2 separate regions of the Homo sapiens genome follow, and region 2 is linked to region 1. Evidence: fine-mapped expression QTL. Tissue or cell type: thyroid. Region 1 holds a variant in brackets; the other region holds the start of a gene. All regions are shown on one strand. Distances are between the middles of the regions.

Evidence for each region. PIP is the estimated chance that this variant, and not a neighbour inherited with it, causes the effect.
Region 2: it holds the start of GPRIN2, and the variant in region 1 is fine-mapped to the expression of GPRIN2 in thyroid (GTEx, PIP 0.98). The same link has a PIP of 0.9 or more in cerebellum.

What each region holds. Positions count from the first base shown.
Region 1 is chr10:46,413,350-46,418,495 of GRCh38, forward strand. All of the region lies in intron 1 of LINC00842 (long intergenic non-protein coding RNA 842), which reads left to right. It also overlaps the pseudogene HNRNPA1P33. Among named protein-coding and RNA genes, the nearest start is that of LINC00842, 18 kb to the left of the region's middle. The variant A/G (reference allele first, on the strand shown) is at 3,021.
Region 2 is chr10:46,554,230-46,559,375 of GRCh38, forward strand. GPRIN2 (G protein regulated inducer of neurite outgrowth 2) reads right to left here and starts at 2,429. Exons shown (of 3, transcript NM_001385282.1): 1 at 2,269-2,429; 2 at 356-466. RefSeq lists enhancers at 1,760-2,465, 3,171-3,876.

The sequences.
Region 1 (5,146 bases):
CTGATACAAGAAAGGAGACTCCAGCACTAGTTTCCTCAGTCCTTCTGCAGGGCGGGGCTTCTCACGGCCTCAAAGTCATGGAGAAGAGTGTGCACAGGACACCTCACTTTAAGCAAAGCCCATAGACCGTATTTGAGAAAAGGAGTTAAATAAAGAGGCAGCCACCAACAAACAAGAGCCCTGTGGTCACTCAGGTCCCATAGACTCTAGAGGTCAAAGGGCCTCCGAGCATTTGAGAATCAGAGAGGGCAAGTAACTTGGCTGATATCACATAGCACGAAGGTGGCAGAGCCAGGATTCTACCTGCTGGCCTCCCAGATGTCTTTCCTGTTGGACCCTGCTTGCTGGCCACTCCTGGTGGGGGTCACTCCACCATTAGTGTGTTCGTCAAACTGACAGTTGTGGTCCAGATCCCTTGCCTCTGGTGTGCCCAGCACCTTAGCTGGCACCTCCCTCAGCAAACCCAGCCTTCGCCATCCTCTCAAGCATACTTCCCAGGGCTGTTTTGTCCATTACGGTCCCAGAATATAAGGCCTTTGGGTTTTTTCAGGGCCTGTGAAAAGGTTTGAAACATGAAAAACATACTGGCAGTTCCAAAATTCTCAAATAAAACTGTAGAAATGCCTTAGGAATTAAATATGTAATAAGATGTGAACACTTCATTACACACCTACAATTAGTCACATGCCTACGATATGTGAATAATGTCAGGTCAGCTAGTGAACTGTTATATAGTAATTGCGCATCACTTATATAGATATACACAAAGTGCACTTACTGACTTGGATGTGTGTGTTCATTGTTTGAAGTGGCGTGGATGGAGGCTCCAAAAGATAAAAGAATGTAGGGGAGGTGACTCTTCAAATGGCCCTCACCCACCCCTTACCCTCAGCTCACCCACCATGAAGCTTCCCCTTCCAAGGAGGACACACCTCCTTTCCTAGAACATTCTTCAGTGCCACAAGCTGCTCAGTCAGCCCTGATTCTGGAGTCTCCAGTGAGCGAGGCCTGGGGTGGCCCCAGCGGGATGAGCCACACTCCCCACAGCACTCAGCCTGGATGTGGCACTGGCTGCACATAGCAAGAGGCAGCTATTGGACACCTGCTCGCCACAAGTTCTGTCTTATCCTCCCAGCAACACCGAGTGAGGGAGGGAGTGTTAACCCACCATTCACCAGGTTTACCAGAGACCAAGCCCAGGCTCTCCCCACTGCACACTTTTAAAAGGGTCCTTTCAGCTTCCCATTAAAGTGGTTTGTTCCTTTGTTCCTCCTCTCCTGTTCTTCCTAAGACATCATCACTGAAATTTAAGCTTATAAATTTAAAATGGAGTAAATCTATAAGGGAAAAGCATTAAAAAAAGAGAGAAAGATGGCTTACTAATGGATGAGAGTCCAACACATTTCTGGAAGACAGGGTTCATGAGAGGCCTAGCACTGTGGCTCCCACCTGTAATCCCAGCACTTTCGGAGGCTGAGGCAGGAGGATCGCTTGAGGACAGGAATTCAAGCCTGCAGTGAGTTACCGTCACACCACCCTACTCCAGCCTAGGCAACAAAGCGAGACCCCATCTCTTAGAAAAGAAAAAAGAAGATTCACAAGAGGGTGTGGCAATATTAGACAGGCTAAGCCCCCAGGTGTACCCAGTGTAACCACAGGGGCCCTTCGGTGGAAGGGAGAAGCAGAAGAGGTCAGAGTGAAGCCACACCTGCTGTGACAATGGAGGGAGAAAGTGGCTGGCCAAGGAACTCCATCAGCTTCTAGAAGCTGGAAAAGGCAAGGAAACAGTCTCCACCCGGAGCCTTATGGGAACACAGCCGCCTCATGGGAACACAGCTGCCCTGTGACACTGATTTTAGCCCCGTGAGGCCCATGCTGGACTTCTGGCCTCCAGAACTGTAAGATTTGTGGTGCTCTAAGCAAATCATAAATTTGTGGAAATTTGTTACAGCAGCAACAGAAAAGTAGCACAGGCAGCCTACGTGCTAATTCTCATCTTACCTGAGGTGGGGTGTACAATACACCCTGCGTTAGTTGGAAAGCTGAAACAATTCTCTAATGCTAATACTGAAATTGTCAGGTCGGTGTAACTGTGACAGTCCGGAAGCAATGGAGGCTTCAGTGAGCAGGACTAGCTGCCTTTCTCACCACCACAGCTTGATCTCTCTCACAACTTCCTCTCCACCTCCACTGACCTCTGGGTTGGTTTTCTCCTGCACGATCTTTCCACGTGTCAGGGGCCTGGAGGCACCCTACAAGAGCTGATTTTACATTTCCTTCCTAGAGGTAATCCCAGAACAAAAGAGAGCAGTTTTATTTATTTTTTTCAAGAGAATTAAATTGTTTATTGATTACACATGATAATGGATGATACACAAGCTTCATTCCCATCTATAATTTAATCTGGTACCATTATTCAATTAGATATGTTACATAGGATGTGCCAACAATTACTTTTATAACCAATAATTCCATGATTTTGCTTGGGTAATCCCTTTTAATGGTGACTGAAATCATGACTGACCGAGTCAGTGGCTAGAAAAGGGGCTTTGCCTTTGTAACTTTTGACGACCATGACTCCGTCGTTAAGATTGTCATTCAGAAATACCATACTGTGAATGACCACAACTGTGAAGTTAGGAAAGCCCTGTCAAAGCAAGAGATGGCTAGTGCTTCATCCAGCCAAAGAGGTCGAAGTGGTTCTGGAAACTTTGGTGGTGGTCGTGGAGGTGGTTTCAGTGGGAATGACAACTTTGGTATTGGAGGAAACTTCAGTGGTCTTGGTGGCTTTGGTGGCAGTCGTGGTGGTGGTGGATATGGTGGCAGTGGGGATGGCTGTAATGGATTTGGTAATGATGGAAGCAATTTTGGAGGTGGTGGAAGCTACAATGATTTTGGCAATTACAACAATGAGTCTTCAAATTTTGGACCCATGAAGGGAGGAAATTTTGGAGGCAGAAGCTCTGGCCCCTGTGGCAATGGAGGCCTATACTTTGCAAAACCATGAAACCAAGGTGGCT[A/G]TTGGCGGTTCCAGCAGCAGCAGTAGCTATGGCAGTGGCAGATTTTAATTAGGAAACAAAGCTTAGCAGGAGAGGAGAGCCAGAGAAATGACAGGGAATCTACAGGTTACGACAGATTTGTGAACTCAGCCAAGCACAGTGGTGGCAGGGCCTAGCTGCTACAAAGAAGACATGTTTTAGACAAATACTCATGTGTATGGGCAAAAAATTCGAGGACTGTATTTGTGACTAACTGTATAACAGGTTATTTTAGTTTCTGTTCTGTGGAAAGTGTAAAGCATTCCAGCTAAGGGTTTTAATATAGGTTTTTTTTTTTTTTGCACCCATGCTGTTGATTGCTAAATGTAATAGTCTGATCATGACGCTGAATAAATGTCTTTTGTTTTAATGTGCTGTGTAAAGTTAGTTTACTCTGAAGCTATCTTGGTAAATTTCCCCAACAGTGTGAAGTTAGAATTCCTTCAGGGTGATGCCAAGTTCTATTTGGAATTTATATACAACCTGCTTGGGTGGAGAAGCCATTGTCTTCAGAAACCTTTGTTGTAGTTGAACTGATAGTTACTGTTGTGACCTGAAGAGAGCAGTTTTAGTAGTGAAAGTCCTGCAGGATTCCTAGTGGTCAAGATTGGGGAGCATGCCTGTATCCCACAGTGGCCAGGGCCCAGGACATATGCCTGGCCCTGTGACTGGCTGGTCATGGGCACAGGCCCCCGGGAGGGAGGGGAGAGTCCTTTCAGAAGAAGGGGAGGGTATGGGAACAGACCCAACCTGACCGCCCCAGACCGTTACTCTCCCTGAGGTGGATGGAATGCAGAATCAAAGTACAATTATATGGTTTAAAGTTTTAAAAGTAAATAACAGAAAACTAAAAATAATTATGCCAAAATGATAAAACTTTGGAAGGATGAAGGGAGGAAGCAGAGGTGCATAATGAGGCCATTTCTTATGTTCCATCACAGGAGGTAGATAAATTTTCTCCAGATGAATAAAAAAATAAGGGTGCCTATACATGCTACTAAGCATTGTGGAGGCACCCACCAGAAGTACTAAAAATGGAAATGTTTACAAGAAGTTGCCTCTGGAGAGTGAGGCCAGGACTGGGGAGGGGAGAGGATAGAAACTGTTTTCTCTCACCATAAACCCTTCTCTCATATTTGATTTGTTCCTATCTGTTTGTTTTACATTGATCACAAGATGTGCTGTGAGAGTGAAAGATTTTTAAATATTTAGATGGATGTCCTGAGCTTTGATATGAAATGCTGATCTGATCAATATCTAATATTATAACTCCATTTGGGATAAAATTTTAGGGTCATGGGGAAAAAACATAATTTGGAATCATCTTCATTCATATGCAAGTTATGCTTTTTAAGAAGGAAACTCCTTGATTCTCATCTGCTGTGCTGAATCTTTAGGAGTTTAACCTGCTATGTCACATGTTTCAATAAAAGAGAGATGTTCCCAGCCTGTTAAACAACAAACTCGCCTGCTTAAATCAAAAAGCAATTATGAATGAATGAATGAACTCTTGTCATCACCCTCTCTCCAGGAGAGAGTAAGGCACATTCATTCTCACAAGAAGACCTGGCCTCACCCCATTTCTCTGTTTCCCAGGCATATGGCTCATCTGCGTCCAGTGTATGTTTGGCCAGGACACTGGACATGTCCCACTTGGCTCCTGCCTCTTGCCCCTGCCAGTCTGGCCTACGGCCGTGGGTCTGAGGGGAGGACTGGGAGCCATCAGAGACAGCAGCTGGCCAGGATCTGATTTGGAGGCCTAGTACTCAATGCAGAGTTACTCTTCAGGCCCCAGCTCCTTCATGCAGGGCTCCTGGGCCACATATTCAGAGTCAGATTCCCCACCCTTCTCCAGAGATTCGGGTCATTGACTTACACCAAAGCTGGAAGCCATAAATCAGGAGACTTCATTGGTCTCATTCCTGAACCCACCCCTGCAACCTTTGGTCATCGCCCCATAGGCCAGCCCTGGCCATCCACCCATCTCCCTGATGCTCCCTCCATCCTGCTCTGGGACTCCTCTCCTTCCTGCTCTTCCGCCACGGCTGACTCTGCCTCTTCGTCACTGTTCCACTGGGAGGCCCATTTCAGAGCAAATGAGCCCTCTG
Region 2 (5,146 bases), 140 kb after region 1:
AGAGAGGCCCTTTTCAGAAGCCATCAAGACACCCCAAAGGTTAGCCTCCTCTAGCTTCCCATCCTCGCTACCTTCATCCCATCCTAGGACCAGGTCACCATCAGTGTCCCCAGTCTCCCTATCACCAAACTAGGTTTCCCAGAGCCTATTTTAAATGTTAACCTAGGAGGCTACGCATGCATACAAGTCTAGAGTCTGCACTTTAAATGCCCAGAATGGCACACCCACCCTGCCTTTATAACAACACAGAAGGTTCTGGTTTTGCCCTAAAGGGACCCTCGGAAGATCTTTTAGGACAAGATAAAGAACAGGCATACAGAAGTATCCAAGACCTCTAGTATTCTTTGAACGATACCTTAATGTTCTCTCTCCTGCCCCATTTGATGCCGAAGTTGCTATGGTTGTGGCCGATGTCCCGTGGCCAATGCCAGGCTGTCCTGCTGCCTCAGGTTCCACCTGTCAGCAACTGGAAGATCAACCACCTATGTAGCAATCAACCAATGTCATTTTGAGTAAAAGCCCCCAGTTCTCAGACACTTCCAGACTAGCCCAAACATAGAGACCTTTGAGTCAACGTACAGAGTCCAGCTCCCGCCATGCTGCCACAGCAGAGGAGCCCAGGCCTTTGGGATATGCCCAGGGGACTACCAAGACCACCACAAGTGGGCTCCATCTCAGACAACACTGTGGCATCCATCTAAGTCCCCTCTTGGTTTTGTTCGTTCGTTTGTTTGTGAGACAGAGTCTCGCTCTGTCTCCCAGGCTCGAGTACAATGGCTCAGTCTCGGCTCACTGCAACCTCTGCCTCCTGGGTTCACGTGATTCTCTTGTCTTAGTCTCCCGGCAGCTGGGATTACAGGCGTGCACCTCGGCGCCCAGCTAATTTTTGTATTTTTAGTAGAGATGGGGTTTTCGCCATGTTGGCCAGGCTGGTCTCGAACTCCTGACCTTAGGTGATCCACCTGCCTCGGCCTCCCAAAGTGCTGGGATTACAGGCATGAGCCACAGCGCCTGGCCCAAGTCCCCTCTAGTTAAGTGGCAAGCATTTGGATGATGACTTATGTGTCCGGCAAAACCAAAACAGGAAAAGCAAACCTATATGATCAGGCAGGAAAACTGGTTCTATGTTAAAATATGGACCTTACCTCTCAAGGACCAGGCAGGAATGCACACAGCACAAACCCCCATTGCACAGTGGGGATACAGCACCCTCCAGGAGGTGGTTTAATCCACCCCAGAGTGAACGGGGCCTGATAGGAACACTCAGGGCCAACTCTGGGCAAAGCAGCAGGCAGCATTCCTAAAGGGAGGGTTTGGAGGAGACAAAACCTGCCCTTCACAATGAACGTGCCTTAAGGGCTACATGCCCCGGGTCACAAGCTGTGCCAGGAAAGGGTTCTGGGGTAACTGTGGGGTCAGTGGCCCCATGGATGAGGCTCTGCTCACCAGGAAGAGGCCTAGGCGCCCAACAGCCCCTGAGCTTCCTCCCCTGGGGAGGATTTGCCCACAATCCCTGGGGGGCACCTAGGTGGAGAGGGTGCCCCGGCCTAGAAGCAGCCTAGGCGGCCGGTGTGTCCCTATCTGCACGCTCACAAGCACTCATGCCCCAGCCTGGGACACACAGGCCCGTATGCAGTAACAGCGTCTACCCAGCTGCACTCTGCACGCCAAGCACAGGCCGCCCCTGCTGCGGGGCCAAAGGCCTGAAAGCACCGCACCACGCAGCCTCGCCCAGAATAGCTCCCCTCCCGCCCCTCCTGCACAAAGCCCACCCGGACTTAGGGAGAAGGGGGCTCAATACGGGCCCGAAACGAGGCTACAGACCTTCTCAGGAGCAAAGGCAGCGACTGCAGGCAAATGGGGCTGTGGGCCGGGGTAATGATGCGGGACAGGAGAAGCCAAAGGGCAGCAAGGCTGGGGGCGGGGTAGGCGGCGCAGTAGGCTGAGGGAGGGGAAAAGGAAGAAGGGGAGAGGGAGGAGCGATGGCAGCAGGGGTGGAGGCCGAAGGAGACAGGGTCCCGGACAGACTTGTGAAAATGGGAGGATGGGCAGAGGAGACGTAGAAGAGGGGACAGGACAGGACAATGAGAGGCGGAGCGCGGGGAGTGCGATGCGGCCACCGGGGGCTCTGGGCGCTGGGCAGGGGCCAGGATGCCGGGGGTCTGAGCGCAGGCAGCGGGAAGGAGTGGGTTCTGAGGCTCAGCAAGGGGGAGGTGCCGCCCACCACGCCCCCCGCCCCAACGGGAGCGCGCGGAGCCAGCCTCTCACCCTCTCGCCCGCCGGGGCCGCGCAGGCGGGGGAAGCGCTGCTCCTGCGGCCGCCACAGGTGCCAGGTGCCGCGGCCCAAGATGGAGCCAGAGCCGACCTGGCCTGGGCGCGAGACGCCGCCCGCCGCCGTCGGCCCGGCCCGCGGAGCAAGCGCCGGGTACAGGGAGGGGCCAGCGGGGCAGCTGGCACCGGGGCGGCGGGAGGGGCGGCGGGCGGAGACCTCGCTCACCTGGGCCCGTGCCACTCTGGAGCCTGCCACCGCCCCGCCGCGGCCCGGGATCTGCGTCCGCGCGCCCCCACCCCTCCTTCCCGACCCCTCCTCAGGCCGGGTCCCCACTGTCCTCGGTCTTTTCGGCCCCGCCCGCACCACGACCGCCTGTTCTCCAGGCTGCCCAGCGAACCCCCAAGACTCCCACTTCCCCGACGCAACCCCACCGTCCCGGGTGTATAGGCGCAGCTCCCCACGATTCTCCGGCCCCAGACCCAGCCCCTCAAGTCCACCTCCTCGTAGCCCCACCCCCTCGCTCCAGTGCCCCTCGCTCCAGTTCCCCCTCCGCACCACGCCCCGCATTGAGGTCTCCGCGCCGGCGGCTACCCCTTTCCTCTCGCCTTCTCCATCCTAGCTCCGCCTCTCACAATTCTCTGGCTCCAGATCCCGCCCACGAGACCCCGTTTCCTATAGGGCCCTTTCGTCTGGGATACCAGGCCTGGTCTCCACTAGCCTCGGACTTTCCAGCCCCAGGTCCCAAATCCTGGACCCACCGTCCCATCCTCTGAGCTCCACTCTCATGGACCCCAAACCTCACTCCAGTCCTTTGAACTCCATGATCCTGGCCTGGCCTGGCCCCCGGAGCCCTCCATTGCCCCTCAAGAGCCCAGCCTGGTAGACTCCTTCCCTAGGGTTGCATCTCCAGCCCCGCCCCTGAAGACTGGTAATCTACCACCCCTTTCCCTGCCCACGTGCCCCTACCCAGCCCGACTTGAGGCCTTCAGTCTCCCAGCCGCGGACCCCAACAGCGGGCGAGGGCAGTGACCGTGCGGGGATGAGCCACCTCCACTGGAGCCCGCCTTCTTCTCCGCAATTCCCCGCAGCACCACAGCGCCTTCCCGGTCCCGTGACGCCGGGGGCCAGCCCAGGCCCTGGGATCGCCAGGTTCCACACTATGAGGCTGAGGACCTGGGCCTACGGTTCCCTCAATATCCCCCAGTTTCCACAACCGCTGGCCAGCTTCAGGGCGCAGGACAGGCAGCCCCGGCCTCCCGCCACTCGCAATAGATTCCTGCTGTCCACCCAGGGCCACGTGGTATGAGGCACCTGTACTATCTCTGGGCCCCAGTATCACATAATTGGGTCCCAATGTTGGCACTTCTCCGTTGTCCCCTGTGCCGGGACCCCCAACTTGTTGGCCCAGCCCTGTGCTGAGAGGCCTGCGTTCCTCCCTTCCAGTGCCCAGGAGCCAACAGTATCTCTAATTCTCCCCGTTTGGGTAGCAAAGGACCTCAGTCTGCCCAGAGAGACTCAGACTGCCCCAGGTAGCCCTCTCCAGCGAGGTCTGAGAGCAGCTCTCAGATTCTGGCAGATGGCTGCCTTTGGCCAAATGCCCACAGGGGTGTCGACGTCAGACCCCAGGCTTGGGCCTCACCATCACACACTGCCTGGTAGGGGGATCCTGCTTAAAGGAGGCAAATAGGGGATTTGTTTGCCGAGGCCACTACCCACTTCTGCCCCTGTCCAGGAATTAGGACCTCTGCTTCCACATCTTAGGCATCTTACTCATATTCCCTCTTTAGTGAAGTCAGCTGAGCCCCAAGAAGGGATGGACTGCTTGTGGTTACACTGAGAGTTGGTGCCAGATCCAGGCCCCAAACCTGGGGCTCTCAGCTCCCAGGACATCTCAAGAACCAAGAACCTCACTGTGTGTTTCAAGGAAGCCTTCTTGGGGCTGGGTGTCAGGAGATGTCTGCCATGCAATCTACCTGTGAACACAGCTGGCTGGCCCTCACCCCAGGGCATCACTCCTTGTCCAACTGGCCCCCTTCTTCCATTCATGCCCTGGCAAGGAGGCTCCCCTGGCTGTGGCAGCTGTCCAGGGAGAACCCAGCATGGGGAGTCACACTTAAATTCCAATCTCAACTCCCCCACATATTCACTGGCTGTGCAACCCCACACCCAAGCAAAACTGTTCATCTCTCTGGGCATCAGTTTCCTCATCTGCAGAGTGGTAGTAATTATACCTACCTAACAGGGCTGGGGGAAGAGGGTGTTTGTGAACGTGTCCCGTGGAGTGTTATCGCTGCTATCAGTCACTTGATCAAATATTTACTGAGCTCCTCCTGGGTCAGGTCCTGGAGGTACAAGCTGCACTGCATGGGGGAAGGAAGGGATGGATATGTGTAGATTGCTTTGGTAGAGAGCAGCTCAGGCCTGAGGACCACATGGGCCAACTACCATTTGCTGAGACTCTGAACCCTGACAGAAGAGGAATGAGTGTGGGGTGCACTCAGGGGTCCAGCGGGGGCACACTGGGATGTTTGAGGCACCACGTGGACAGGTGGGTTGCACATTACAGGATTGGAGGGGTTTTTCTGTTTGTTTTTGTTCCTTGAGATGGAATTTCACTCTTGTCACCCAGGCTAGAGTGCAATAGCGTGATCTCGACTCACTGCAACCTCCGCCTCCCGGGTTCAAGAGATTCTTCCGCCTCAGCCTCTTGAATAGCTGGGATTACAGGTGCCCATCACCATGCCCAGCTAATTTTTGTATTTTTGCTAGAGGTGGGGTTTCACCATGTTGGCCAGGTCTCGAACTCCTGATCTCAGGTGATCCGCCCCCTCTGCCTCCCAAGATGCTGGGACTACAGGCGTGAACCACCATGCC